2 separate regions of the Homo sapiens genome follow, and region 2 is linked to region 1. The links come from fine-mapping of genetic effects on gene expression. A gene starts in region 1. The other region holds a variant in brackets. All regions are shown on one strand. Distances are between the middles of the regions.

Region 1 (15,549 bases):
ATTTGCTATTTATTTACTATGCTGGCTCAAGATGGAAACAGACGCCATTCAAACACCTAAAAGTTTTTCTCATTAGCCTTCCAGAAACCACAGTAAATGGAAGCAGGTGCGCAAATCCAAAAGGTATCATGCATGTTGGTCAGACTTGATTAATATTGTTATTTTAGCTCACATTCCTTCTACTAGATTGATTTTACATAAAATGTTAATTAGTATAGACAACACAGTACCTGGTACAGGCAGTATGAAGTGGTGCAGATGCATGGGAAAAAACAAAGACATAGGCGCATGTGCACACACGAATAGGGGTGTGTGTGCAGAAAGGAAAACACAGACAGACTGGTAGCTGAGGGATCTGTGTTCAAACCCAGCTGAACAACGTGGCTAGGTTTGTGGCCTTGGGCCAGTTGATTACCACTGAGCCTCATCTTCATTTGTAAAATGTGGATAATCCCTACCTCGAAGCATTGATATGAGGATTAGAGATAATATATGTAAAGTACTCGGATATAGTGAGCAGCCATAACTGGAAGCTATTATTATTATATTATTGGGGCTTAATAAAGGTTTGGTGATTGAATAATAGGTAGATTAGCTGACCTCAAAAATCCACATCAACTCTAAAATTATGATACTAAAGATGGAATTAAAAGTTCACACATCAAATCAACTCAAGGGTATTTTTAACTATTGGAATTGTGATGCAAATGTCTTATGCTTTTCAGAATAAGTACTGATAGTGAGACTTACAGAACATAATATATATACATGCCCTGGTGTATGACTAAAACATTTATGATTGAAATTGAACAGGATTGGCATCTACAGTTTCTGAGATCTCTAGGGGTTGCTGCTGTCTCTTCTTCCACAGCTACTTTTCCTAAGCCCCCTTTGCAAAGCACTTCCCCAGGCCACTGTAATGTGGGTTTATGGAGGTTATCTGTTTTCACCCTCACAACCACCCTAGATAGCCACTACTGCTTCTTCCAATTTCATAAAAGAAAACTGAGGCTGGGTGAGATTAAGGATCTTTCCAAGGTCACACAGCTAGGAAGCACTGGAGACGGGACTTCAACGTGGACAGGAAGCCCATGTTTCTAATCCCTCTGCAGTATCACTGCAACTAGGACAAGCCCCCAAGGAAAGCATGAGATCAGAGACACTCGGGAGGAAATGCATACACAGAAAAGGAAGAACAAATGTCAGTAACATCTACTGCATTCTTTATTGGACAGTATTCTGTGTGACTGCATTCTCACCAAGTCTCTTCAATTGAAAACTTACATAATTTGTTAGTGTTAAAAGTCAAAATAGGGCTGGGCGCGGTGGCTAATGCCTATAATCCCAGAGTGAACTTTGGGAGGCAGAGACAGGCGAATTACCTGAGGTTGGGAGTTCGAGACCAGCCTGACCAACATGGAGAAACCCCATCTCCACTAAAAATACAAAATCAGCCGGGTATAGTGGCACGTGCCTGTAATCCCAGCTACTCAGGAGGCTGAGGCAGGATAATTGCTTGAACCCTTGAACGCGGGAGGCAGAGGTGGCAGTGAGCCAAGACTGCACCATTGCACTCCAGCCTGGGCAACAAGATCAAAACCCCGTCTCAAAACAAAGAAAACATCAAAATAGCAGCAATTCCACTTCTGGGTATAGACCCAGAAACACTGAAAACAGGATGTCTTATACTCCTGTTCACAGCAGCGTTATTCTCAGTAGCTACAACATGGAAGCAACCCAAATCTCCATCAACAGATGAATGGACAAACAAAATGTGGCCCATACATGCAATGCAATATTATTCAACCTTAAAAAGGAAGGAAAGCCTGTCCCATGCCACAAGATGTGATAAACCTGGAAGACGTTATGCTAAGTTTAACAAGCCCATCACAAAAGGATGAATGTGGCATGATTCCACTCACCTGAGGGATCTAAGGTAGTTGAATGTATAAACAGGAAGTAGAATGGCGGATGCCAGGGGCTGAGGGAGGTAGGAATGGGGACATGATGTTTAACGGGTATAGACTTTCAGTTCTGCAAGACGAAGGGTTCTGGAGCTTGCTTGCACAACAATGTGAATGCTACGAATGCACAGTTAAAAATGGTAAAGGTGGCTCATGCCTGTAATCCCAGCACTTTGGGAAGCTGAGGCGGGTGGATCACCTGAGGTCAGGAGTTCGAGACCAGCCTGGCCAACATGGTGAAACCCCGTCTCTACTAAAAATGCAAAAAAATTTGCTGGGCGTGGTGGCAGGCGCCTGTAATCCCAGCTACTCTGGAGGCTGAGGCAGGAGAATCTCATGAACCCAGGAGGCAGGGGTTGCAGCGAGCCAAGATTGTGTCATTGCACTCCAGCCTGAGTGACAGAGTGAAACTCCTTCTCAAAAAAAAAAAAAAAAAAAGTAAAGATGGTAAATTTTATGTGTTTTTAAACCATGGTTTAAACAAAGTGACAGAACATATATTTGTGTATATATAACTATATATATGTATGTGTATATATATGTGTGATTATCTGTTTACAAATATATATATACACATACATATATCCTTAAAATGATCAGTGATTTTAAAATGTCAAAAACCTACAAATCATAACAATAGACACCTGTGAGGCCAATGGCAGCCTGTAAATGGCCTAGCGGCTGTCGTCTTTGCGCACGCTAGATCCCCGGCCGTTACAACCATGCTCGCCGTTCTTGTTCCAGCTTGTGAGTCATCATTTGCAGCTGCACAGTCGAGAGTCTCTGAACTACTTGAATTTCATGCAGATACCCTCTCGCACAGAAAATGAGAACTCTTCTCCTTTCTACCCTAAAGGTGGAAATGCTCCCAAACGATAAAATTGATTTCACAAAGAACTCTGTTGCTACTTCCAGTGATCAACTTGCCTCATCTTAATTGGCAGTTTCAGTTTTCCTGTTTTCAAGTGGTTTCCTTGAAGAAAGTACAGGCTGCATTTACTGTGGGAGAAGTAAGCCTGTGGCGGTTGTAGGAAGAACCACAGAGTTTGCTTTCAGGGTGGTCCTGATCTCAGCATTTTTGATCTAAGGTGCAGGTAAAGAATTTGGATACATCTTTCCTTGTTAACCAAAATTAAGACCATTTTCTATGGTAAAATTTACTTCAGACAAAAGTACATTCCAGGAATTATGCTACCTAATTTTTTAGCACATCAGGCGATGACCCCAGATTACTTAAGAAATAAAAACTGACTATCTTCTACACAAACTACAGATATTCTACCAGCTTCCAAACATTTGCGTGGATATGTGTCTAGCACAGTGAAAGATGCTAAGACAGGCCTGGGAAACATATGATTTATCTGTTTAAACATATATTCCGCCCCCCCCTTTTTTTTTTCTGAGACTAGGTCTTGCTCTGTTGCCCAGTACAGTGGCGTGATCACTGTTCACTGCAGCCTCAACTTCCTGGGCTCCAGCAGTCCTCCCATCCACTAACACATTTCTTGTTCTCCAGTCCTCTTACACAGTAACTGCCTTGGTTTATCCTCATTCAGCACAACTAAAGGCTGGATTTCTTATTCATGATGTTTCTTCCTCCTCCTATCCCCAAGTAGGCACTTAGTTGACTGATTACAGAATCACAAAGTTGGTTATAATTCCATTTCTTCATCTGACTTTGAACTTAAGTGTTCCAATTACTTTGCCTGATCCTAATAAGTCAGTAGCGTGCTAATGCTTGCCTTGATATTTCTGAAATATACAGGGTTGTGATTAGCATGGGATTGCATCATTAGAAAGCTAAGTTGAAAGTGGGTGAGCAAAATCATCACTCGCATTTAAGTAAAACTGCCTGTTCAGTGGACTTACAATGTTACTATGATCCTAGGGGCACTATATGCTGTGACTAAATATATATTGTATTTGGAAAATCCTCTGCTGTTCTGAAAACTTCTGGCTTTGACCACTACTAGAAAAGACCCCAGGACAGACCTGCTCTAATATAGTCTCGAAGTCTCTCCAAGCCAGATACAACCGATGACACAAAGAATGCCTAAGCCATAACAGTACTGGGATTTTAAAAAAAAAAAAAAAAAAAAGAAGAAGAAAGAAAGAAAAAAAGGAAGGAAGCAAAAAGGAGGAAGGAAGGAAAAACTTTAGTTAGTTCTGCTGGACTGAATTGATGTCTCCCAGCCAAAAAGTGAGAAAGCTTTACAGTAAGCCTGCTGAAAGAAAGAAAAAAAAAACCCATGTACACATACATATCAAATGAGATGCCAAAAAATGACATTAGTATTAGGGGTGCCATTTGAGTTGATGAAAAAAAATTAACTCCTTTATATCTGTATGTAGCTGGGAATAGTGTAGGCTTTTAGAAACTAGCAGGAAAAAAGAAGGAGATACTTTAAACTAGGAATGGTTTGTAGCCAAATCAATTGATAAAAGAAGGAAAAAGATGGCACAACTAAAATTGATGCCAAAGATTTATAAGGTTGACTAAATAAAAATGAATGGATCACCATGGAAATGCATGAATACTGAAATAGGCAAGATTTGAATAGACTAATGATGTGCCTCACTTAAACTGACAGGTGTTGATAACAACGGTGACACTCAATCCACACCAACCGCCACACTTCCAACATGTTTATTCCTAGAAAACAGGCTGGATTTAGAGGTTCCTTTGGTAATAGTTTATAAGCAAAATGCATTTTCCGGTCTTAAAGTGACTGACTCAATGCTCATCTACTGGAAAAACAAAAAAAAGGTTTTTATCCATTTTGTTCCTAGATATGAGGAGCTGCAGTTAGCAAAAGTCATTCTCCTGGGCTCTACTAGTCTTTGTTTCAATAAACCTCCCACAAACCTGAATTCTCAGTCTTGCTTGTCTCCCACACTGAGTACTTGAAGTATGACCACCACTCATTAGAAACATAATTAAAAAGACACAACACTAGATCCCCACCCCCCATCACATTCAGATGAAAACCAATAACCCTTAATCTATTTGTTACCATGGCTACCATAGGATATTTTATTTCAGTAAAACTCTAGGTATTTCGTTTGGATTGCTGCTTGCAAATGAAAGTTGGAGACCTATAAATTTCCATAACCGAGAGACCGAGGAGAAGAAAATGTTTTTCTTAATCACAGGCAAATATGGTTTATAAGATGTTTGTGCAGAAAAGTTATTAAAATTGGTTAGATGCATCAGCCCATAAACCAATTTAAATGCCATTAAATTCATATAGAGTTTAAAAGGCACATGTGCTAGTAATTCCCTGATTTATAGCAGGGTGATAAATCAAGTGCACTCCAGCACAATGTATGGGACGGAGACTATTCATCAGTAGCACACAGCTCCATACCTGTATAAACACCTAGATTATGGACTAATCAAATACACGCATGCCAACCAGCCTTTAAAGTATTCACTAGTGCTTACTGGACATGTTTTCTCTAAGTGTCGGAAAGAACAATCTATAAAATTGTTCATTCTCCTCCCTCACAAAAAAATTAAAAAGCTCTATACCTTCTTTCCATAATAATAATAATAATAATAATAATAATAATAATAATAATAAATCAGGAATGAGGTGGGACAAGTCTGCTGTCATTCATCTGAAAATGAAGCAATTCCTCAAATCTGCCCTCCCAGGGCTGAGTTAGTGATAAGACCACACGGCGAGGAAGAAACTCTGTAGTGACTAGACAGATGACTTTAAAGAGACTGAAACTAGTATAAATACAGCCGTAACCAGGACAGATCTGTCATTGCAAGAGGAGTCCGAATCCCAGCGTTGCTGGACTGGAGAGAGGCTGGAACCTGCAGCAGCGGGCCGGGATGCCGCTGAGCTGCCGAAGTGGAAGTTTCGCAGGCAGCAGCAGCTCGGCGTCCTCCACGGTCTGGTCCCTCCAGCGCCGAGGTCTCGCCTAATGCTACATAAATACCTGCGTCCACGATTCGCCCGGGGCGCGCCGCGGCGCAAGCACGGGAGGGAGGGAGGAGAACGTTTGCAGAGCGGCGGGGATGGCAGCGGCGGCGGCGGCAGCTCCTTACCCATCAGCATCTCTGGGGGCCCGCGCGAGGGCCCGCCAACGGACCGCGTCTGCCGCTTGGTTCCACAGCCCAGGGACGACAACTGGCTTCTCAGCGGGTGGACCCAGGCATCCGAGACTCGCGCGTGGCCGCCACCCCCTCCTCCGAGACGGCTGGCCGCAGGCAGGCAGCGCGTCCCCGCCTTCCCCAGGCAACGCAGAGGCGACCTGCCCTAAGAGCCACCTCCGACCTACCCCGGCTCCCAGCCCCGCGCTCCGGCCCCAGGCGAGCACGTCCCTCCCTTGGGGCCCGGGGCCGACGCTGCCCAGCGCGGGCACCCGCGCGGCGACCGCAGATAACCCTAGCGCTCTCAGCCCGCTCCAGGCCACGGAGACCGGGACGCGAGCCCTGGGCTCCCCCGGCCCCCCGAGGCCATCGGGGCGCGCGTTCACACTCCCACACTACACATCTCCAGGTCCACCCTGTCCCACACATCAACAACCCCTCCCCAACGACACCACCTCCTGGCCGCTTCGCCGTCCCCGTGAGCTCTCCTTTCCGCGTCCCCCCACAACACGCTGGCACCCACAAGGTGTCAAGGGAAGTGTGCGTGTGTGTGTCGGGGTGGGGTGGGTCACAATAAGGTCTGTGCGGGTTCCCTCCCGACGGTTTTCGAGCTCATCTACCTCGAAAGTTACTTGGGATTGAGTAAAGAGACCCAGTCCCCAAATGCGAGATCAGAGGACGCGAGGGGCAGAAAACCCCAACCTGGCTTCTCGCTGCACAGAGGCGCGCACCTCCCCAAAGGACAGTGCGCGCGGCCGCCCCTGGGGGCCAGCCCTCCGTCGCCTCCAGGTCTCCTGCCCGGCCGGGGCCCTGGGCCGCTCAGGGGAACGTGGCCTGGAGAGGGGCGCGCGCCGCCGGGCCCAGCAGGGGGGCTGCTCCGGCCAGGGGTCACACAAGCCTCCAGCACCTCCGAACACCGTGACAGTGGCCCCAGGCAGCCCCGGTGCATACACACCCGGGGGCAGGAAGTTTTTTCCCCCCCTTTTTTTCCCCCTGGAGCAGCGCAGGCGCAAGGGCTCCTGCAGCCTGCGAGTCCAGACGCGGGAGGCTCCTGTCGCCGCCGCCGCCGCCGAAGCCGAGCCCAGGGTTCCGGGTTCCGGCCCCGCTCCCACGCCCGGCCCGGCCCGGCCCCACGCGGCGGCCAGGACCTGGGTCTCCCTCCGGCGCCGCATCCGAGGCGCTCCAGCCCGGCCCGGCTCTTACCTCCGGCGCGCGGCTCCGGCCCCGGCCCGACGCGCAGAGAGCCCGGGGTCGCGGGTGGGCGCAGGAGGGCTGATGGAGAGCGGACAGCGCCGGCGGGTAGCGGTGGCTGGGGCCGCTCGGGTCCTGGCCGGAGGAAACGGATCCAGGTCCTCCTCCTCGCGTTCCTGCTCTCCGCCTTCTCCCCTCGTTCCTCCTCCTCCTCCGCCGCCGCCGCCTCCCGGCAGCCCAGGGAGGATGCCCGGGAGAGGGAAGTCGGTCCTCCTGCCTGTCAGCCTGTGCGGCTATGAGCGGTGCGGCGCGGCTCTCATCGAGGCGGCGGCGGCGGCGGCGGCTCCGGCAGCATCGCCCCCGCCCTCTCCCCGCAGCCGCGGCGGCCGCGGGGCTGGGGCTGGCTCCGGGCTCGCGGCTCGGGCTCCGGGCGGGGGCTGCGCTCAAGCGCGGCGACCGCCGGGGCTGCGGACGGGCGCTGCGGAGCCGGGGCCGGGGCTGGAGCTGCGGCGAGATCCGCGGTGGCGGGGACGGCGGCGGCGGCGCGGGGGCTGGCGCGGCCGCGGCGCGGGGACCATGCTCCCTTCTGGCTCGCTCCGCTCCGGGTACCGTCTGCTTTAGCTGCGAGGGAGGCGGGCTTCGGCGCGCAGCCAGGGGCGGGCGGAGCCAATCACGGGCGCCCGAGTGGGCGGGGGTGGCGGGTGGGGGAGGCGGGGCCCTCTGGCCCGGCCCGGCCAGGCCGGGCCCCGTGCGCAGTTTCCCCGGCCCGAGGGATTCCCGGCTGCCGCGCGCCGGGTCCGAGGTTGGAGTGCTCGCGGGTGTGTCCGTCGGTCCGTCCGTCCGCCGCCCCCGCCCCCCGCGGTGGCCCCCGGCTCGCCTGGCTCCGCGGCCGCGCCCGGCAGACGCACGGCGCGTGGCACGGGCTGCTCCGCCGTGGCCTCCTGGCCTTGCTGGCCCAGGGTTGGGGGCCCGGGACTGAGGCGAGCTCCCCGTCTGCTCTCAACACCTGAGGAAACTGGCGGAAAAGTTTGAGAAGGAAAAAGTCCAATCGTCTTTCAGCTTCCGCCCTCTTTATGACACTCCAGCCTTGGAAAGGAGCAGGAATTGTCCACACCTCTGAAGGACCAGGGAGAGCCCTGCAAAGTGTCCACCAGCCTTCTGAGTCAGCCCTGCCTCTCCTGGGGCGCGCGACTTTTCTGTTCATACTGACCCTTAGGAATCCAGGAAGCCTTCTCTGTTTAACAGCCTGACCAGCCTTTGATGTCTATACCGACTACTCACCCCCACCACAGCTCGCTCTCTCTCACACTGTCTACACTGACTTCTCAGTCCCACCACCTCTCGGTCTACACATGCTGTCTACACAGACCCTAACTTCTAACCCTAATAGAAGAGATTTGGCCAGAGGCGTGTGGGACCCCCAATGAGGGCTTTTCCATTATGCTAGAATATTTCACTCTGGGCACAGTCTTCTCCACCCCGACCGCTCTCCTAATCTGGTTTTTATTCCCCGACCTCTCCCTCCTCCCCTACATCCCCTTTACCTGGTTTTGAGTTTCAGAGGAAATATCTGTACCTGCCCTCCTCCTCCACCCCTGTCTGAATGTAAAGGCCTGAGGGCCCAATCCTCATCCTCCACCCTCCCTCCGCTCCCCCGGGTAAAGGCCTGAGGCCTGAGGCCTTGCTAGAAATTGGAGTTGGGGTGCTGTAGGTAGTGTGGGGAGCTGGCTGTGGGGGCCCAGCTGGGAGGAGCTGGCCTGGGGAGGGCTTTGCCAGTCCTTGCCTCCATCTACCAGGGCCAAGGAGGACTGAGCCGGTAAATATTTTCTTCTCAGCTCCCCCCCTGTGATGTCTGATCCAGGCCTCTGCTCTCCTTGGCTGTAAACTCAGCGCACGGATTGTGTCTTCTTTAATATTTTGTAGGAAGCAGAGTACAGTGTCGTGGCTGATAAATAATAAATAATAATAATCTACTGAGGGTAGCAGGAGCACTGTCAGAAATGGAATGAGGACGCCGGGGAAATGGCCCACTAGTGTCAGAATAACTGCATTTCCTGGAAAAAACATCCAACAGAGTTTGTGTGTGTGAAGCCCGGGACTCAAGGGAGGGGACAGAGCGGAGCACTTCAGGGAGGAAGCCACCCTTCATGAGGACGACAGCCAGGAAAACTGGCGTGACCTTAAGAGAGGGTGACAGAGGTGCCGAAAAGGGGAGCAGGAGTGGGGGGGAGGGGGAGAAAAGCTCCCCAAGGGTCCTCAGACAACACCTGAAGGTGATCGATAGCTTTGGTTTGAGTACTATGTCCTTCAAATGGTATATGAAAAGTGATAGAAGAGTACTAGATAGCAAAATGGAAAAAAGAGGGATTTCTTGGGATTTCAAATTGATACACAGGTCAACCCAATGCAAAAAGAAGGAGAACAAAGCCACAGGCGTGTGTCTGTTCATCCACGCTGTAGGAAGCTGTCCTCTGAGATAATCTCCATGGATGCACTGACTGTGAACATGCAGAAGTCCACCCAGCCGTATTCTGGAGTAGCGCCCTATGTGACAGCTGTAGGCACTACAGAAATGTGGCCAAGGTTTGCAGGGTCTGGGATAGGTTAAGATCTGGCAATGTGAGGCACTCACAGTGTCTTACAGATGATTTTGAATGATCCTCAGTTGAAAGAAGAAAATAGGAACTCCAAGAATCCTTATTCAGCTACCTCTCCAGATGAAGGAGAAAGGATGCTCCCAATTTCCCTGCTGGCAGCATCAGAAAAGAGAGCTGTGCTGAGGTCTTATCCAGAGGAGGACCTACTCGGGCCATGGTGGTGCGAAGGGCGCTGGTTCTGGGGCACCGCAAACTCTTCAGGGCTGAAGTTTGGTAACAGCTCACCAGGGGAGCCAGCTTGTCAGGGAGAATGAGAAAAGCTGTGTGAATTAGACTCCCAGTGGGCTTGTCTACCCTGTCCTCACCCATCCTCGTTTTATCCAAGGCTTCCTCGTCATTGATGCTCTGCCCTGCTGGGAGCTGTTTAGTGTGGACACAGCCATTTATGAAGGGTCTGCGCTGGTCTGCATATGAGTTCCATTTCAGAGTGCTGTTGTTCACATGATCTGTCCCAGCGCATCTAGTGTCTTGGCAACATAAACTGGATTTGCATTGTGTCAGGGGTCTCCTCTCTCTCTCTCTCTACGTAGATCTTGCTGGTGTCTGGGATCTTTTTTGGGTCATTCTTTGCTCTACTCTGTGGCCCATGGGATGGGCCCCATGACTGGCATGGATCTCTCTGTGTGGTTCATGGGACTCGTGTGTTGTGCCCAGAAACCTCTTACACCATGGTCAAAGATTTCTCCATGAAACACAGGATTGACTTGGTGGTGTGTTCTCCAAAAGCCAACCCTCCCTGTCCTGAGCCCCAATCTGGGCACTGGGATCAGGACTAATGTGTACACTCCAAGCAGATGGGTAGTGAAGGAGCGGACTCATAGTGCATAGGGAAGTGGACTGGAACACTCCAGGACATCCATTCCCCGCTCAGATCATAGACCATTATCTGTGCAGTCAATCAGACAAGGACTTGTACTGGAAAGGCCACCATCACCCAAGGAGGAACCAGAGGAAGTCACATCAGGAACACCTGGGGTGCCACATAAACCCACAGTGGCCAAGGTGGACTTCTGTCCTTGTCTGTGTTTATGATAATAGCCACAACAAAAGGACCTTTACCCAGTGGCTACTATATGTCAGGCACTGTACCAAGAACTCTACCCATGATATCTTGTTAATCCTCACAGCAACCTGTGGAATTGGTGTTATCAGCCCCCAAAACTGAGTTCCAGAGAGGGTAGATGAGAACCTGCAATCACACAGTAAGTGACAGTGCTGGAATTTCAGCCTGATTGTCCCAAAGCCTCTGTTCTTTTTACCCCACCAAACACACAAATGCAGTTTCTTTTGTCATTAGCCCAGTGCTTTTCCCTTGGAGTAGATACAGTAGATGCTGATTTTTGCCTTCATCAGCAAAAGTCTTTACCCCAGACACATAACTGGAGATCAGTCATAGAACAGAGAGCACTAATGTAGAAGGGCACAGGTCCCTTTGATTACTGAACACTCAGGTCACTCGGAAGAGTGGAAGCCTCATCAGAAACCTTCGGGTTTGACAGGACATCTGTTTCCAGGAGCACGGTGGGTGTAAACAGAGCAGCTGCCAGCCTCTGTCCTGGTTGGGGTTTTGTGTTTGCTGGTTTTTCTTTTTTTTTTTTTTTAAACACATTATACTCTATTAAAACCACCCCTATTTGGCATCAAAAGCATTAATAAATCCCACATAAGGCACAGTCCCTCCAGTGGTTAATCAATCCATAAAAATCTATTTAGCACCTACTGTGTGTCCAGCATTTCAATCCCATGACGTTGATTAAAGCAGGAAGTAAGGAGTCACAGCTGCCAAATTTTCACCATGGCCACCGTGCTCTGTGATGTGTCACAAAGGCATTTGCCAATCATGCAATCAACCATTTACTGAGAACCTGCTTTGTTGCTCAACTCTGTGCTGGCGACTCTCAGGAAGACAGGGAAGGTATAAGGCGGCTTATACGCCAATCATTTTTACCCTGCCTATTTTCCAAAAAGTGATCGAGGTTTCCTAATACAATACTTGGCTCTTGTTCTTGACAAGGGTTAAGATAACAGCAGTTGTTATCAAGAAATATAACTTCGTGCTCACCTGTGGGGAAGAGACTCTCAAGTGTTGTGGGGTTAAGGGGACGATTCCCTAAGAGCTAGGCTGGTCAGGATGCCTTCCTGGAGGAGGAAGGTCTAAGACTGGACCTGACAAGGCAGTTTCTGTGGGAGGCAGAGGGAGCCTAGACCAGGCAGAGGGGAAGGCAGGGGCCAGGAGGTCAGGGGAGGGAGGATTGCTGGATTGGAGGACTCATTACCATATGATCGTTTCTAAAACACGACTTGTTGTTAAGTCATTTCCTTTGGGTGAAAGTGAAAGTGTATTTCCTTCCCCCCTCCTCCCACCACCCCCAGCCCGCCAAATCAGTGAAATATTAGATTCTAAGAGTCAGAATGAAACCAGTGGTGTCTTTTTTTGGCATTCTCAATGGCAAGAATTCAGCACCTTTTTTTAGTACCACTTGTTTGCAGGTGGCAGGAGTGCTAATTAGACAGAGCCACTAACAATTTTCCTGGGTGGCTCTGATTCCCAAACTGACATGAGACACTGCTTGGGCGTTTAAGAGAGCAGCTTCCGCTCTCTCCATTGGTAATGGGATTCTTCATCCATGGTGTCCGGAGGAATGGACTGAAGAGTTGCTCAGTATATAGTTATTGGTTGTTAAATTGTTGACAGTGATCAAAATGTCACTTTCCTTTTTCAATGTTAAAGAAGGGGCCGGTGTTTCTCTATGACAGATTATTAAAAATAAGACCCAGACGATTGTTAGGATAGATTGCAAGGAAAATTTAGTTTGAATTTTAGAGTGTTTTTTCACTCACTGAAGCATGTTCACTAATGATAAAATTCAGGAGACTTTTTTTTTTTGAGACAGAGTCTCACTCTATCACCCAGGCTGGAGTGCAATGGCATGATCTTGGCTCACTACAACCTCTACCTTCCAGTTCAAGAGATTTCTCCTGCCTCAGCCTCCGATGTAGCTGAGACTACAGGTGTGTGCCACCACGCTGGCGAATTTTTATTTTTATTTTTAGTAGAGATGAGGTTTCACCATGTTGGCCAGGCTGGTCTTGAACTCCTGACCTCAAGTGTTCTGCCTGCCTCTGCCTCCCAAAGTGCTGGAATTACAGGCCTGAGCCACCATGCCCGGCCAAAATTCAGGAGACTTTTGAGAGAGGATTGAGCCCTGATAGCTCTTGGCATAAATGTATTTTTAAGCTGTTTTTAAGAAAAAAGAGGTAAAGGTCCCACCTACCTCCTGTTCAACTCTAGAATCCATCAGTGCCACTGTTTCCATCTCCCTCTGGGTTTTTGGTAGGACGTAGGGCCAGTATCAGGTTTGTAATTATGGTCATTTTGGAGCCCCCAGTTGGGCCAGAGGAAGGCCAGTGACCACTCACCCAGCACAGGTGGTGACTGCTCTGCCTTGACCGTCCCCAGGACAGGGACCCTCCACTGTCCTCTGCCCTCTGCTGGGACCCAGGCAGCCTGAGAGGGGACCCAGTCCACATGGGCTACAGGGGGAGCACAGCAGGAGGAGACAGGATGACCTCGTGGTGACTTGGCAGTGAATCTCATTTTCATCAGCTATTTATTGAACACGCCTGGGTCCAGGGCTCTGTCTCAGGTGTTACTGGTAATCACCGTACCCCCCCCCCCCCCCCCCCCCGCCCCACAGCTGAAGTAGCCTGTCACGGTCACAAGCAAATGACAGCCTGTCTTCCAAGACACACATTCTCTATTCTCCCTGGAGATGGAAGTGTTGGGGGTCAAGTTTCATGCAGCCTCAGAGTCTGAGATTAACCTCGGTTTGCAGTGTGAAGTATCTAGTGGTTTCAGCTATTTTGGGTCCTCTGGACTATGTAAATCTGTATCTCCTCTTCATGTTCACCCCTACCAGAATCTGTGAAGCTGCACACACTTTCTGTGCTGAGGGGTCCAGGAGGAAACATTTATGAGACCACACCCAGTGGAAACATGAATGTTAACAGCATTGCTGAGGCTTCATGCCCAGGGAACAGAGGGTGACAAGGAAGGGATGATTTCACCAGGGTACCTGCTGAATATTTACCGAGGGTCTTAAAAATAGCCTAAAGTCTGTGATACAAGCCACCATCTGGTCCAGGTGCACCTTACTGTAAGAAAATATGATATATGAAAATTCAAAATTGTAAAGCAGAAGGATTTTCTAGTTTGCATCACAAAAGGATTCATGGGCTTCCCTTGAGTGAACCTATTCCCTTAGATACTTAATCTGTGGCTGATTTACTGGAAATTCAGTTCACATCCAACTGGTCAGAAACACACTAATTTATTTTCATTTATTTAAGATGTATCACCCAGCTACTTCCAAGAGGCCTTGAGCAACTCACAGGTTAACTCACAGGTTAAAACACGGGGCAAAAGAAGGCTTTTAGGAATGAAACAGGATAGGTGATGAGGTAGAGGCCTCAGGCACTCATGATGAATGGTTTGCCACAATTAGGCTCTAAGGAAAATAGTGCAAATATGCCGGGTTACCTGACTGTAGAAAGGAAGGAACATTTCTATCAGGTTATAAAATGGTTTGAATAGTAACTACTTAAAAATCAGAGACTATTACAAATGGAAGAATGTAGTATTGTTGAGATAAAAGGTTTCTCCTCTAGACTTTTGGAAACAAATGCTAACTGTGGAAAAGTATAACGCTGTAGGCCTGTTAACATTTTTCACTGCTCTCAAACCCTTAAAAATATTTACCAGACAATTTTCGTTAAAAAAATTTCAATCCTTTGTAGATTCATTTATTGCAGATTCAGGAAAATGATTGCGAATCAGACACATCTCCTTTAGGTGGCTGTGAATTTTCCTAGAATGCAATGAGTATTTTTTAGTTAAAGTCTAAACCCTCAATAATGTCGATATGGCTTCAGGACAACTTCAAAATTAGAGAGTTCTGGCTAATGTAAAATTTCACTAGATACACTCAGAATTTAAATAGGAGAATAGGCAGCTTTAGGAAAGAGTCAGAACAAGATTTGAAATCTAAGATATTTCTATACCAGTCTACAGGTAAAATCTTTTTTTTTTTTTTTTTTTTTGAGACACAGTCTCACTCTGTGCCCAGCCTGGAGTGCAGTGGTACGATCTTGGCTCACTGCAAACTCTGCTTCTGGGTACAAGCAATTCTTGTGACTCATCCTTCCGAGTAGCTGGGATTATAGGAGTGTGCCACCACACCCAGCTAATTTTTAGTACAGACAGGGTTTCTCTATGTTGGCCAGGCTAGTCTCGAACTCCTGGTCTTAAGTGATCCACCTGCCTCGGCCTCCCAAAGTTCTGGGATTACAGGTCTGAGACACTGTGCCTGGCAGTCTACAGGTAAATTCAATTAAACTGAATTTGAGATTTTAAAAGGGTACAGCTGTGACTTATCATTATACTCAAGGCCAGTTTTACTGGGAATTAAAATTGACGTGTGGCAGTTGATGTATATGTGTTGTTCAAAAGCAATGGAACGGTGAATTGGGGCGACAGTACATGAAATAATGATGTACGAATGATGACAATGTCAGCAAAAGCAGATAGTAGTTCAGCACTTACTATGCAACAGACACTGCTTAAAACTCTATT
Region 2 (15,549 bases), 150 kb before region 1:
TGTTCAGATACTTTGTCAGGCATCCAGATTCCTGTCAAGCGAAGAAAGTGAGAAAGGTTCCCAACAGAATTCAGTTGTGAAATCTGCATTTTGTCTGATCCATTCCCTCCTTTATCTGATAGTAGGATCTTTCTTTCCCACAGGGAGCCCATTAGCTATGGCTGGGTGTTGTGCCCCACCCCTGGGGTAAGCACGTGACCAGGCCAGGCAAATCAGGGTGTTCTATCCCCCTGGCCATAAGGATTGAATCAGGGTCCATGACCCAAACAGACCCAAATCCCATAGATACGATATATGAACTCCAAAAACAAAGGTCTCTCTTCCTTCAGGATCATGCCCAGAAAAGATGTAAGCAGGGCCTACTCCTGGCCGTCCTCTCTGGTCATGGGGAGGGGACGGTCTGTAGGACAGAGCATGAAGCTGGCCACAGAGGGCAGTGGAGGAGGGATGGACGAGGTCCAACAGTACATGAGTGACTGAATCTGGCTGTGCTGAAGCCTGAGTTGTGCCTCTCCATTACAAGAGTTAACACATTTTCTTTTGTGCTTCAGTTAGTTTGAGTTGGGTTCCCATCTACTGCAACCAAAAGAGTTCTATGTTCCAGTGTACCCTCAGAGAAGTGCCAAGTTCTGCGCTACTGAAGATGAGGTTTGGGATGTAAGGATGTGTCTATGTGACTCTTTGGGAAAGAGGGAGGATTTGGAGAGAAGGAGAGGAAAGAAAGATGCTCAAGAGGAAAGGACAATGTGGACCAGCACTAGCCAGTACGATTTTCTGCAATGGTGGAAACGCTTCTATGATCTGTGTTGTCCAATATGGAAGCTAGAAGCCCCCTGGGGCTGTTGGCACTTGACAATTGGCCAGCATGATCGAGGAACTGAAGTTTACATTTTATTTAATTGTAATTGATACAAATACTGGCTAGTGGCTACTGTATTGGACAGTGCAGGTGTGGACCACGGCCCCGGCAGAGGAAGTGTGAGGGAAAGTGACCACTTCTGGGGGGCTGGGCAGGTACCAGGGGGCGGGATTGCAGGACGGGAGCCTGGACACAGAAGATCCTGGGGGACATGAAGGCAAATGGCCCAGGCAAGGACTGAGGAGGGTCTAACATGGGGCAGGGGAAACAACTAGGAGCCAGAAACGAGGAAGTTCCAAAGTGGGAGGATGCCAGAGTCAACTCACAGGGCTGGTGGGCGGCACACCTGTTCCCTGAAATGAGGATTACAGAGGAGGATGGAGGTCTGAGGTGGAACGATGGGACGAAGGTTGCTTAACAGAAGTTGGAGCCTAGAGAAACAAGCTTTTGGAGTCACTGGAGTTTAGGGGATAATCGCTCAGACTGTGGAAAGAGAAAAGTATACCTAAGCTAAACTATGGAGACTGCCAAGAAGTGGCTGGAAAAAGAGAATGAGGAAATACAATGTATGAAGGAGTCAGAAGGAGGTAGGATAATGGCCAGGTGCAGTGGCTCATGCCTACAATCCTAGCACTTTGGGAGACTGAGGAAGAGGGGTCACTTGAGCCCAGGAGTTCAAGACCAGCCTAGGCAACATAGTGAGACCCCATCTCTTAAAAAAAATACAAAAATCAGCTGGTGTGATGGTGCGCACCTGTAGTCCCAGCAACTCAGAAGGCTGGGGCAGGAGGACGGCTTGAGCCTGGGAGGCGGAGGTTACAGTGAGCCAAGATCACATCACTGCACTCCAGCCTGGGTGACAAAGTGAGACCCTGTCTCCAAAAAAAAAAAAAAAAAAAAAAAAAAGGAGGCAGGATAAGGCTAGCAAAGCATCATCAGTCTGCTAGGATTATTATTGTCTCATTTTTCTTATATACAGACATATTTTTGAGATAACTGAAATCAATTCCTTTCAACATCCAATCTTAAACAAGAATAAAACATTTTAGCCATTTAAAAGATAAAATATTCTGCAGTACACTGCATACTTCCCAATCTGCTGAACAGAATTGAACGTAACAGAGACACCTAGGGCTGTGAACCAGTACGATCCCCAGGACTCAGGGATCCAGGGTCCCTACACTCATCAGCCCTGGGTGGCTGCCGTGCTTTCTAAGCGTGGATATAAAATTTTAGAGTTTGGCAGTTGCTTCACCTCTGATTAGCTTCTAGCAAAATTTTCTTGCTGGTACGATCTTTCCCAGCCCTTCTCTTCATCCTTGCCAGATCAGGAGTTTGCAGAATTTGCTCTGAATTTGGAATGCATCTAATCAATCTTATAGTCAATTTGTATTTTTTAAAGAACAATTCTGAATTAAAGCCGGAGGGATTGATGATGAAGAAAGAACGAGATTTTGTGTGCACACATTTGGTGATGCCTATTTGTTTTGTCAGTCACTCAGAGATGCCTTCTGTTCTTTCTCTCAATCTAGGCTCCAAATCTCTAGGAAAGGTTTCCAGATCAGTGAGAACTGGTGGAACAAGCAAAGGCCCTGACAATCTTGCCACTCAGAACCTCTTATTCTGAAATAGATCAATGGCACAAATTGTTACACTGTCACAAATGTGCAGCCCAGACAGCTAACAGAGTGACATATTCCACAGTGTGTCCCTCCCCACAACCAAAGATCATTCTCACATTCACCCCCACAAAGCCACAGGCACACTCTTCTGAGTGTTTGGAATGGACGTTTCAGTCACGATTTTAGCTTCCTGTATGGCAGAGAGAGGCTGGGATCTGGGTAGCAAGGAGCTGACAAAGGATGACAGATAATCTCCTTGTTGAGGGTCTAGGCCAAAAGCTTTTAGACATCTTGATAAAGATAAAACAGAATAAGAATGGAGCCAAACAGATAGGAGGGAGAATTAGGAATTCCAGCTTTGCACCCATGCCATCTGGCTTCCTTAAAAGTGAAACTGACGTCAGGCATCTTTGTTTCTCAAAGTGTGGTCCTTAGGTCCAGCATCACTTGAGAGCTTTTAGAAATGCAGAATCCATTGAGAAGGGCTGCCTTACTTGGTTCATAATTCTATTTCTGTGGCCAAAGGAATCCTGGACTACGAGTCAAGAGAAACCCGAGATCCATCCTAGTTCTGCTACTTATTGGTGGTATGAATTTGAGTAAGTCCTTGCTCCTTCTGGTCTGTTTTCCCAAATACTAACTGGGGTCCAGCCAAACGGGCTCAGTGATCCACCCTCGTTCTAATTCTCAAAGTGAGATCTGTAGGTACCCTCAGTGCTTCTGGAGCAACTTTCCTTTACAGACCAGAGCCTCCTTTTTCCTCACACATAAATCATCATGGGGTTTTGGAAGTATTTCCTACTGTCATGAAGGCTGTGGCATGAATCCTGCCACCCTTTGGACACATTCCAAAGCCTCTAACAGCCCAAAGTGTCAAACCAGGATCCAATGAGCTCCTTGAGAACCCAGCCTTCCATCCCTAAGTAGACTTGGTGGTGCCAGCTGCCCTGAGCCCTGCCTCTCCAGTTTCCCACCCGACATGCAGCTTCTTGCAGGTGGCCAAGCTCCAGATGCCCCACATCTCAGCAAAGAGCGATGAACCATCCCTTCCCAAATACCCAGATGGGGCCTCCTACTTCCTTTAGTCCCTGCAGTTCTGTGCTCCAAATTCTGCCAACAGATGAATCCTAGTATCTTGTATGGTTATAACAACTCTGCATTCTAAGCACTAATGCACCTGACATAATATTGGGCATGAGTGGTTACACAGGATGCCTCCTCCCGATCTGCTGGAGAAGCGTGTGCGTGCCTGTGTGTGTGTGTGTGTGTGTGTGTGTGTGTGTGTGTGTGTGTGTGTGTAGTTTCTGCCCACCGCAGGAATCGGCAGCTCAAACTCAACTAGAAGTTACTCGTCCTTCCTAAAGGACTTTCAATGCCCTTCCCTGCACTGTAGTATGATGGAGAAGGCAAAAGGGGGAAGCAGACCCCTCCCACTGAGGCAACAGAGTGTTCAGAGGGTAGCCAGGGGCACAGAAGCGGCAGCACTGCCCATGAAGGGTGGTGGCAGTGGCACCCACCAACTGAATTAGCCGACAGAGCCCGAGAGCAACCAGTGACTGAAAGGGAACTCAGGACAAATGCAAATTCAGAGACAGAAAGTCAGACTGCAAGAAAGTGGCATCCAGGGGCAAGGTGGCGTGGGACCAGAGTAGCATGTGCACCTCAAGTTTCTGCCAAGAACAGGGACGTAACGGACAAAATGGGGATGCCAGCAGGTCCAGAACAGCCCTTTACACCACACCTGAAGGAGAGAGAGCGAGAGAGGGAGAGAGAGAGAGCGAGAGAGGGAGAGAGAGAGTGTGTGTGTGTGTGTGTGTGTGTGTGTGAGATCTGTCTTTCGCTATTTCGTTAGTAGGAAGGGAACCAGAAGTTTGTCTCAGAATGTCACTCTCTTTCCTTTACTATAGGCATGGTACCTACTTATCTACATCAACCAGAACATAAACAGTACAGAGCTTCTTTTCACAGCACAGGCTCGGGCCCTTCCAATAGATTCTTTCTTTGTCCTCCTAACGGCCTGACTGCAGCAAACCTTCACGGAGAGAGATCAGGACTCAAGAATCCAGCAGTATTTTATAAACGAAAAGGTTGGCAGCCCCCTTCACAGGCTGCTGTGCCGAGCTCTCTCTCCTCTGAGCATGGGAAGGGTTGCCTGTGAGTTTGATGGGCCAGGCCTTCTGCCATTCAAAGAACAAATCAAAAATGGTCCCTGAGGCAAAACGGGGAGAGTCAGCCTCCTTTAAACTCTCCACGGCAGGCCTGCTCAGGCCGGCACCAGCCCCCTGCTGCGACAAGTACCCGGGTATCATTCTGAATTACAGGCCAGGAGCCAACCCGCTCTGACAGCCAAGCTGCCGTCCACACAGCGTACTCTAATTTCCGCAGCTTGGAGCCCCTTGGGTCTTGAGGATGGGGTCACCCCAATCATGATGCTGGGAGTTGCTGGGGCGATAAAGTAAAATTCACCCCTCCATCATCAGCTTCAGGATACACGTTGCCCGAGAGAGTCAGATGGGAAAATCAAGTTAAACCAGTGGCGCGATATGTGGTCACCCACCTTTGTCTTGACAAAAGGACCTGGCATTTAGGAAGGATACCTGTCGCTCTGAAAGGGCCTGGCAGTCAGAGAGGGCTTCTGTTTCCCACATTTTGATTCTCAGACCAGAAACCACATCCTCTGCTAAGCAGTCCCCTGAATGATAACATTTAAAATGTTGAAATTTAAGGGGGCCAGGAGGCTGCCTTAGGCCTGGGATTCTTTCGTTGCTCTTCTTTATTCTTTTTATTGTAATCAAATATACAAAACCTAAAACCGACCATTTTAGCCATTTTATGTGTACACTTCAATGGCATTAAGTACATTCTCAATGTTGTGTAACTATCACCACGATCCACCTCCAAAATGTTTCATCTTTCCAAACTGAAACTCTGCCCACTAAAAACAATAACTCCCCTTTCCCGCCTCCCCGAAACCCTGGCACCCACCGTTCTACTTTCCGTCTCTATGAATTTGCTCTAGGTACCTCGTATAAGTGGACTCATACCATATTTATCCTTTCCTTTGTCTGGCTCATCTCATTTAGCATAATGTCTTCAAGGTTCATCTATGTTGTAGTAGGTATCCATGACTATAGCATTCCCTTTCTTTTTAAGGCTAGATAATATTCAATTGTATGTATACAACACATTTTGTGTATCCATTCATTAATTAATGGACACCTGAGTTGCTTCTACCTTTTGGCTATTGTGAATAATGCTGCTATTAACATGGGTATACAAATATCTGTTAGATTTTACATTAATTTTAATCTTCTCTTCTCCTGTGAGAGGCAGGCCTCAGCCTGTGGCCGTGTGAGGCTTGGCTCTGATTCTTTGGAGGCAGGCCAGGGTGAGGTCTCCTGGGAGAGGGTGGCGAGGCACCTGTGTGTGGAGTCCTAGCTCAGGACTTAAAGGGTTAAGTTCCACAAATGCAGAGACTGTTCTGTCTCTTTTCCTCCCAGAGCAATCCTGTGCCATGCTGGCATGAGCTGCATTTCCCAAGGCCACAGGAAGACCACAACAGGCCCCTGTATCCAGCCTGTCTGGTCAGGCCACATTTTAAAAAAATTAACTAATTTTATGGAGATATAATGTCCATAAAGTAACTGTCCAAATCTTAAGTGCACAGTCTGATGAGTTTTGACAAATGCATGCACCTGCCTAACCACCACCCCAATCATGATACAGACCATTTCCATCAGCCCAGAAAGTTCCTTTGTGCCAGACGCATTTTAGCAGCTGCTTTTAGGGCCAGTCGATACTGCTGCAGCATCAACAGGATTAGGGGATCCAAAAAGCCTGCAGGGGGTTCTAGGCTGTGAAATCCAAGATGCCCTCAGCTCTAAGTGACCAGAAAAGGCACTGTTTTTTCTTTCTAATTCTGCAGTTGACTAGTCACCCACAGTAGTCTGTCAAGGGAAGTTTTGAAGCACTGGAGCCTCAAAGAGACTGTGGGACCTCAGCTTCACTCAACAACTCAAAACACATCCACTCTATGAGCCTCTGTGCCATACACAGAGCTGGGCCCTGCTGTGGCAGGAAAGGGGCAGCTCAGTGTAGCTGGAGAGACACTGAGCAGAAGAGAAGGAAGACGGGAACTTGGGCTGGAACAGAAGTTAGCATCTGTGATGCTGCAAAGAAATAAGTCATTCTGGCTAAGGCCAAACAGGAAGGCTTCTCGGAGGTGGGGGCATTCATAGTAGCCTCTGAAAGGACGCAAAGGATTTCAATAGAAAACAATAAAGAGAGGAAAATTCCACGCTGGGAAGACATAATGTGTCAACAAAGGCATTGAGACATAATAACCATCACTTATTAAATGCCTGTTAAGGAACAGGCATTGGGCTAGGTGTTGCACAAATGTGATTTTATCTAATAAAAATAACAATGATGAGAAGGACCCTACAAGGTAAGTCATACTAACTGCAATGTGGCCAAGTGACTTCCCAGGTTCACAAAGCATTGTACCTGGATTCAACACCAGGTCTCATGATCTGAAGCCCCGGTTGTCCTGTTTCCTGTGCTGTGGGAAGAAACACGATAAAATGGGTGCTGCTCAGCGGGATGTCAGACAGGAATCCCTGGTTGCTTGGAAAGGCATCCCCGAAACCGGGGACTTTCAACTATTGGCGGGTCCTTACTTGGTTCAAATATCAATTAAAATATCAGGAGGACTATTACATACCCCAAAAAGAGCTGTGGAAACACCTCATAGCGCACACGTTTCTTTAAAAAAAAAAAAACAACAGACACCATAGGAAAGTCTCATGTATTTAAAATAAAGGGAGTTAATTAGTAAATTTGTTTTTTCTGAAAGCAGTCTTATTGATACAAAATAGCCCAAACCGGGTTCACAAAGGTTGAAAACAGAGTTAGCTTATAATTAGCATTTCAACTGTCCACAAGCGGATCTTCTAGATTGTCAGCACAAGGAAATTCTGTTCTCTTCATTGGCGTAAATGCCCCAATTCTTATTTACACTGTTAGTCCCGGGAGAGTGGGGGGTCCTCACACTGTTACAAATGCCATCACCCAGCCCAAACGCCGCACCCCATCTGCAGCTGCCAGGGAAGGAGCTTTCAGGGAGCTCCCAGGTCTCCCAGCTTTGATCTGCGAGCCAGCGCCAAGGCTCCCCAGAGGCTGCACAGAGCTGCATCTACGACCCAGGGCTCCTTGTTTTGCATCAGCTGCTTCACTCCCGGCAGAGGCTCACGTTTTCTCTGACGCCAAATGCCATGAATCCTGCTGGGCCAGGAGCTACAAGTCTCCACAGGACCCCTCCCTGCTTAGACCATCCCAGCTTTCTTTCCAAAGGGGGTAGAATGCCAGCCCCAGAGGGTGGGGGAACTCTCAGAAAAATACTTCCCTGGATGCAAGAGTCCGCATCAAACCCATGCCCTAGGACTAGCCCACAAGCAGCCACATCAGAAGGCACTGCTTACTTGTGCACACACAGATCTGCACACACTCACACATACGCATGGTTTCTCTGCTGCCTTTGACCCCCAGGCCTGCCGTATGTGTACACCTTTTCCTCCCCCAATATCTCCAAACCACTTTACGTGCTCAGGAAAAACTGAGAGACGCTCTCACACAGGGAAGCCACTGGTTGGCAGAAAATCCCTTGAACTCGTCAAAGACC[A/G]GGCCAGGCAGCACCTTCTGCTCCTCAGCTTGGGGGCCTGTGAGTTGCAGAGACGTAGAGGGAACCCTCCCCTCGGCCCCCAGGCTTTCTCACCGCCAGCTGAGCTCCTCCTCTCGGCCCACGTGCACACACAGCTGTGGGGCTGTCTCCCTTCTCAACAAAAGTTCGTCTCTCTCCAGTTGGTAGCCTGGAGCCGGGCCAATCCTCCCCTTACCCTGAACGCGCCTCGATTTGCAGAGGCCTGTGGCGAACAGTCTCCCTGCCCTGATCCTTCTCCCCGTGCAGAGGGTGTAGTGGGTGAGGCTGGGAACACACCTCCTCCCACCTGACACCCACCCCCATGCTGACCCCAAACCACAGGCCTCTAGTGAGCTCCCCACCGCCCAGGCCTCAGTCCCAAGTTAAGATAATCTTACAATCTTGTCACTCCAGTGGTGCATTCTTGAAGGAAGTGTTTTAGCTTCAAAGGAAAGTGAAAGTGAGATTTTAACATAGGAGCAAGAAAAAGTCTAACCTTGGCGATGCACATCCCACAAAGCTCCACTAGCAGGGGCCTGGGTGCCGCCCTGGGTGCTGCCCTGGGTGCAGAGGGTGCGTGGGCTCCCCATTCCCTTCACCAGCTCCCACCGTCTCCATTCTGCTTCAAGCCAAGCACACTGCAAACCAGAGTACTTTTTCTCCTTGCCAGTGAGCCGGTGTTGTCTATGTACTGCAGGAGGAGGCCATTACAGGGAGTTAATAGAGTTTTAAATTTGTTTTTAAATTTTACAATGCACTTCATCAAATTCAGTGTCTGAGCACAGCATCATGTTCAGACCAGGCAGCACATGTCAAATGGCCTCAGCCTTCCCCTCCACCCCTCTCCCACCAGGAAAGGTTAACTCTTTGGAGTAACTCCCAGGCATGGCCCCAGTGGAGCGGGTTCTGGTCTGTGGGGGGTCGTTGTGGAATAGGCCCAGTGGAAAGGCTGCTGACTTATTTGAGATGCTCTGGGCAGCTTCCATGGTCAAGGGCCGTCGAGGCTTCCACTGGGCCTTGGTCGTCCCGTTGAGGTCCCTTACTGAGGTGGCACTTGGGAGTCGTGGCGACTTGGTTCTTTCAGGTTCACATCTCTATGGTCCCAGGTGTCAAAGAGGGTGAGAAAGTATCCAGGGCACAGACGTGGAAAGCAAATAGTATAGTGCAGTCTGCTGATGAGGAACAGATGGGAGCACATTTCTGCTATTTTTCACCCAGAAGGATTTCCTTTAAGGACATGTTCAGCTGAACCTAGGATCATTATTGTAACTTGGGATCAGTTGCTGCGGAATTGGAAATAAGTGAGATTTATGGGCCCACGGTTTTGTGAAGAGCGTCTTGGGTACCAGGACTTGCGGCAGGTCTTCTCTGTCACTAACTGCAGTCAATCTGGCCTTTTATTAAGCTTTAATAAGTGACTCTGGTTCTAGGGAAAGTTCCGGAATAGATATTACTGGCAAGTGAAATCCCGTTGGTCCCAGGGCAGACTGCAATAAAGCAGCTCCGTCCTGGCGGCTCGGAGGCAGGGTCTCAGCTCACTGAGGCCACAGAGCCCCACGAGGGAGGCGGAGGGTCCCCTTGCCAGAGCAATCTGGTAGTGGGTGGGTGGGGGATGGAACTGATGGGGACGGTCGCCTGTTCTTCTCCCTTGAGCATCACAAAACTGAGCCTCACCCCCCAAATAGGTCCCATGTTGGCAGTGGTCTGCTTTTGAAACGTCCCAGGCAACAAGAACCCAACATGCCTGTTTTTGGTTAATGGAACCCACAGGGTGGCTGCACCCTGGTCCCAGCTGTCTGGCCACCACGTGGCAATGACTTTCGCTCACTATTTATTTGAAACTTGTCTGTACAGGTGACGAGGAGGAGACAGGCTTCTCAGCCAGGCTTCTGCCGAGTCCCAGATACAGTCCCAGCTTACCCCCTCTACCTCACTGTGCATCCAGGTGTCAACCTGAACTTTGCACTTCTTAAAACAAACATCCTACAGATAGAAAACGAACCCTTCTGTGAGGCCACACACCCAGTTAAACACCCCACCCTACTTTTCAACTCTGGGGAGACTCTGCCCATGTCTGCATCCTTCCAGACAGAGCTCTGTGCTCTGTGTATGGCTTCAGGTTTTCCATTTCTAAGTTCATACAGACACAAAGCTGGTGGGATGGGGCAAGAACCCTTGGTGGCCTCCACTCTCCTGAGCAGATTCAGAAGCAGATGCTAAGAACTGGGCCCAGGAGGGATGTGGGAGCTGGGGTGGAGCTGGGCTTGGCAGCTGGGCGGGGGCAGGGGATGGGCTGGGATGGAGGGAAGAGCATCTTGAGGTGATGGGAGTCTTTTTGCATTCAAGGGCTTGCTGGCTTCCAACTTGCTACTTACTGCATTGAAAAATATTCCACACGATGGAAGAACTATTTTCCAAAACAAAATGCTAGTATTCATCAGGAGGCGCGGGTTGTGCAGTGTGAACAATTCACTTTCGTTAAGTACCATATGGCCGCTGGTAGGAAAACGCTAACATGTTTCAACAGTACAGCTGGGGGAGGGCTCCTTTATTCACCGTGCAGATGGCTCTAATTGACATCTCTCCTAAAACAGGTCTCCAGCATTTCTGCAGGATCATTAGAGTAATTAGTTATTAAATACCATCACCACTTTTAGAGAGGGGGTCTGATCCTTGGCAACATTCCAGCGTGATGGAACTGACAGGTTGGGAGGACAAGCCGTGGGAGGGCCCATGGAAAGGGCTTACGAGCTCCTCCTCTTCAATGGCAAGGCCAGAAGAGGATAAAGACTTCGCTGATTCCAGAACAGCCTCCTGGAGAGAACTCAGGCACCCAGAGGGCTCTACGCCACAGTACTAGAGCCAGCCCTGCCTCTTTGGCAGTGTGACTGTGTACACCCCTCAACCACCCAGCCTCAATTTATTTATCCCTTAAATGGGGGTAATAGCAACTGCCCTTCCAGCCCTGCAGAACTGAAGCCACATATTGAAGAGCACATGGAAAGAGCCGGACTGAAGTGCCGCAGCTGAGCCGGTCCTGATGGCTGTGTTTGACACCTAGCTTGATCCATGCTCACCACTTTGGTGAGTGACAAGCCGTGGCCTCTCAGGACATGGGCACACCTGAGACTCAGTCCTCGATACTGCAACGGGCAAGCCTTTGTCATGCTGCGACCAGAGCTCAGTCTGCAAATGCGGCCCCCCAGGCTGTCTCAGGACGGGTGGCGGGCTCAGCCCTGCCTCCATGAACCCCAGAGCCAGCCCGCAGGTGGAGGCTGGTCTAAGCTAGGTCCTGTTTCTGTACTAGACCTATTATACTCTACTCCCCAAACCAGCCCTTGAAAACAGCCCTCACACCTGCCCTCACTCGCCTCTTCGGTATGCTCATCACCTCCAATCAGCCAGGTCTATACCAAGCCTGTGCTTTGGTGGGGGCGGGTGGGCAACAGGGGCTGAGGTGGGGGGAAGGGAGAAGCAAAATAAGAAAAACCATGACCCCTGCTCTCTCTCATGAGACTGAACACACAAAGGTCTCAGCAAACCCCATACTGCAGCATGCATAGTGGTGGAGTGAACCCAATATCCATTTTAAAATGGAGCTCTTAGCCAGCTGCAGGGGCTCATGCCTGCAATCCCAGTGCCTTGGGAGGCTGAGGCGGGAGGATTGCTTTAGGCCAGGAGTTCAAGACCAGCCTGGGCAACATAGCAAGACCCCCATCTCTACAGAAAATGGGGAAAAAAATTAGCCAGGTGTGGTGGTGTGCATCTGTAGTCCCAGCTACTTGGGAGGCTGAGGCTGTAAGATCCCTTGATCTCAGGAGTTCTAGGCCTCAGTGAGCTATGATCGTGCCACTGCACACTGCAGCCTGCGTGACAGAGCAAGAACTTGTCTCTAAAAAAAATTAGTAAAAAGGGGCTTTTCAGCCAGTACTATATACTTCGGCCCTACGTATGGTTAGAGGGTGGCTCAGCATCATCCCCAAAGAGAGGTTTCTAGTGACAAGAGGCTTAAGGGTGGGCTGGGGGCCATGAGGATCACACTTTCAGCAGAAGTTCTGAGTCCCACTCCCAAGGCCCAAGGGGCACCCCTACCCCAGCCAACTTGCAGACTCGGTTCTATCTTGGCCTTCCACACCACACACACGGCAGCACCGCCAGGGTGGCCGCAGAGATAGCACTGCGAGTCAGGCTGCGCTGGCAGGAAAGAAAGGCGGTCTGGGGATGTGTGCGCCCCTAGGATTTCTTTAAAAAAGTAAATACGTGTGTCCAAAGGGTAATATGGATCTAGGAAGTAGCCTTCACTTTGAGCTCAGTCCCCATTGATTGAGGGTTAACAGCGTGACATTATTAGTTTAATTTCACAGTCTAATCAGTTTCCTGCTTTATTGATCAAAGGACTTGGAGCAATTGTAATTTTGGGAGGCTGAAAAGTGAAATTCTGGGCTAAGGGAATAAAGCCTGGAGGCTCTCTGGGCTCAGGGTCCATGCAAGGGAGCGCGTGGCCTCGTCCTGTACAGCCCACCTTATAAGGGCTGCAGGGTCCACAGGTGACATCTCCAGTCACGTCTTCTTCCTCCCACTGTTGAACCACACGGAGAGTGCAGGAACTAGTGACTAACCAGCATCGGAAATGGAGACCAGCCTCGGAAACAGCCCCTCGCCCCACAACACCCAATCCCACACCCACCTCCAGCCATTCCGAGCCCCAAACCGGCCCAGGGCTTCATTGTTAAACACCCTCCGTCAGCAGAGCCCCATCTGTGCGATGGAATTTTTTTTTGTCACTTTTTCAAATCAGAATAGAAACAATTTTTAGTCTATAATTACCATTTCTTTTCTCAACAGACAAATGTTTCCTTTTAAATTGTAGGGCAGAAAAAGCAAAGAACAACATTTTAAACCAAAAAGAAAGACTAAAATTAATTTCTTCTTTACAGAAAAATAAAATACAACAGCTCTTAGAAGCCAGGTTTTTCTTTTCCCAAAAGAGCAACAAATGCAACAGTGTATTCACAGCCGCCATTAACTCCCATTTTAGAGGCAGGTCCCAGAGGGGTGGTGGTGATGGGGTCTGCAGTAGCCTGGGGGCCTTGCACCTTGATCTCCTGGCAGAGCCTGGGCTGCTCCTGATGTCTACGTTTGGTTGGGATGAATGGTCCAAAACCTTCAATGCAGAAAGCTGACTCGGGGTTTAGGGCTCCAGGAATCAAGATCAAGGCCTGGGGACTACCAGTTGCTCCTATGGAGGCTTGGGGTGTAAGCTAACCACCTGGCCCTCAGTTTCCTCACCTCTGAAATGAGAGCACAACCCATGTGGCGAGGTTGTTGGACAATTTCGTGGGCTGCGTGTTTTGGAACTCGAGAACACTGAACCAATCCTACTGCTTTCACCGTGCTGTCAAGACCAAGCCGACTCTTCGCTGAGAAAGGCTCTAGCTCTGTGCCCGGAGATGAACAGCCTCTAAGTTCTGCTCACAGCCTCTAAGTTCTGCTCACAGCTTTCTAAGCAGGCAAGCCTCTCCACCCACCCCAGGAAAGGGCAGTCCTTCCCTGCTCTGGGCTCCACAGTCTCTGAGCAGGCAGAAGGGATGCTGCAGACAGCATGGCGGGGCTTTTGCTGGGCAACACCCACGAGGGCCCTGCAGACACAGTGTGGTATACTAATGCTGCCCAGCCCCCACCCTGGGGTGGCTGGGGGGCGTGATTCTGAGGGAGGGGCAAGCACGTGCTGGCTCTAAAGGGGAGAAGAAGCAGGTCGCATTTAAGGACTGGAAAGAGGTCCAGTGTAGCTGGGCAGGGCCTGCTCAGGTGATGAAGCAGAGGCAGGAAACACACGTGTCCTCCGTGTGAGCCGTGTCTAGGGTCTGGGAGCCCATGTTAAGGAGCCTGGTTTCAGAATGGGCCAACATGGCCACCGTCGCCCAGTTCTCCTGGTTGAGGCTCCATCCCCACTCCCCATCCTAGCTTCCTAGCAGGGAAGTGACACAACACATGTCCACCAACGCAGGATACCAGCCCCGTGTGGTCACTGCTCAGCCCACCATGCTAACCCCGAGCACGAAACCCTGCGGGGGCTCCCTGTTACCCAGAGCTATACTGGTAAATGTTTAACACCCGGCTCTGCTGGTGGTGGTGGACAAAAAAAACCCACCCAGACCCTGATGTGCATGCAGCGTTCATCAGTTTCTGTTGTATAAATATTCCCACTGTGGCCGTTTCGAGCTACCAAGGTGCTGTCTCCTAATGAGGAGCTGGGAAGAGACGTTAACAATGGGCTCTTGGGAGCCACGGAGCCAACCCCAGCTCACCCCACGCTAGAGACTTGTGAGCTGGGTGTGGAGGGCAGGCCACAAAGGTGCTGCTCTGGACCCACGGCTGCTGCTGCTCTATGACCATGAGGAGGCCAGGTCACTCTGGTAGGCAGAGGGCAGAGCAGGCCACCAGCCCACTAGGCTCCTCTCTCTCCCCTCCAACCTTCAGTGGTTTTTCCCACCATCTGCTGGATCTCGTCCAGACACCTCACCTGGAATTCAGGGCGTCTCAGGCTCTCTCCAGGCTCTCCTCCCCCGGCCCCTGCAGAGCCCTCTGCACCAGCCTCGTGCCTCCTCGGCGTTCCTTAGTCACGCATGGGCTGTCCCGCTGCCAGGCCAAGAGCGCAGCATTTGTGGTCCCTCTGCCTTCGATGCCACCCCTCCCGCATGCCCTGACCACAGCTCTGGTTTCCCCTCCCCTGTGACGCTTCCTCCGACCGCCCACGTTCCTCTGAACTGCATGCGCTGGCAATGAACACCACGACTGCACGTGGGCATCCCCTGCCAGACTGCACACTCCATGCAGCTTCCTCTAGAACAAAGGCTCCAGAATCTTCTACTCAATGACTTAACACTCCTCACGATGGGATCCCTATTCCAGGTTTTTCCTAACCTGCTTTTCCCTTTCAGCCTTTACCTTCCTCTCAAGGAAGCAGAGGAGGGCAAACATTAGGGCCCAACATCCACGCTTCTGAGGACACAATGGCTGCAGGTCCACGGATGTCAGGGACGTGACTTGCCATGGCCAGATGAGGCCAGAAGGGTGGCTGGGTTGCATCGGGAGGAAGCTTCGTGCCAGCTCCAGGCCACAGTAAGACAATCACATCAGGACAGGTGGGGCCTGGGGCAGCAACACAGGATCCCTAGAATGAGCCCGAATAGGTGGAAAAAGGCAACTGGGCGTCCTGCGCACCTGATAGCTTTCTAAAAATAGCGGGTGGGCCCTGGCTCTGCTGGCTCGCCTCGGGTGGGGGGGGGGGGCAGGGGCTGGGGCTCACTCGGCCTCTGGGGAGCGAGGAAAGTCCCAGCAGGTTCCATGCCTTACTCTTCCCAGGCAGG

What was found. PIP is the estimated chance that this variant, and not a neighbour inherited with it, causes the effect.
Region 2: its variant is fine-mapped to the expression of KLHL29 in whole blood (TOPMed, PIP above 0.99).

Annotation. Positions count from the first base shown.
Region 1 is chr2:23,377,504-23,393,052 of GRCh38, reverse strand. It overlaps KLHL29 (kelch like family member 29), which reads right to left and starts at 7,874. Exons shown (of 14, transcript NM_052920.2): 1 at 7,273-7,874. LINC02923 (long intergenic non-protein coding RNA 2923) reads left to right here and starts at 5,735. Exons shown (of 6, transcript NR_187213.1): 1 at 5,735-11,832. RefSeq lists silencers at 5,988-6,037, 6,208-6,377, 6,398-6,517, 6,758-7,617, 7,788-8,137 and 1 more and enhancers at 9,641-9,935, 12,259-12,478.
Region 2 is chr2:23,525,649-23,541,197 of GRCh38, reverse strand. The region is part of intron 2 of KLHL29 (kelch like family member 29); the gene reads right to left. LOC105374325 (a long non-coding RNA gene) reads left to right here and starts at 10,890. Exons shown (of 2, transcript XR_939831.2): 1 at 10,890-15,549. RefSeq lists enhancers at 4,406-5,281, 8,145-8,204. The variant A/G (reference allele first, on the strand shown) is at 8,162.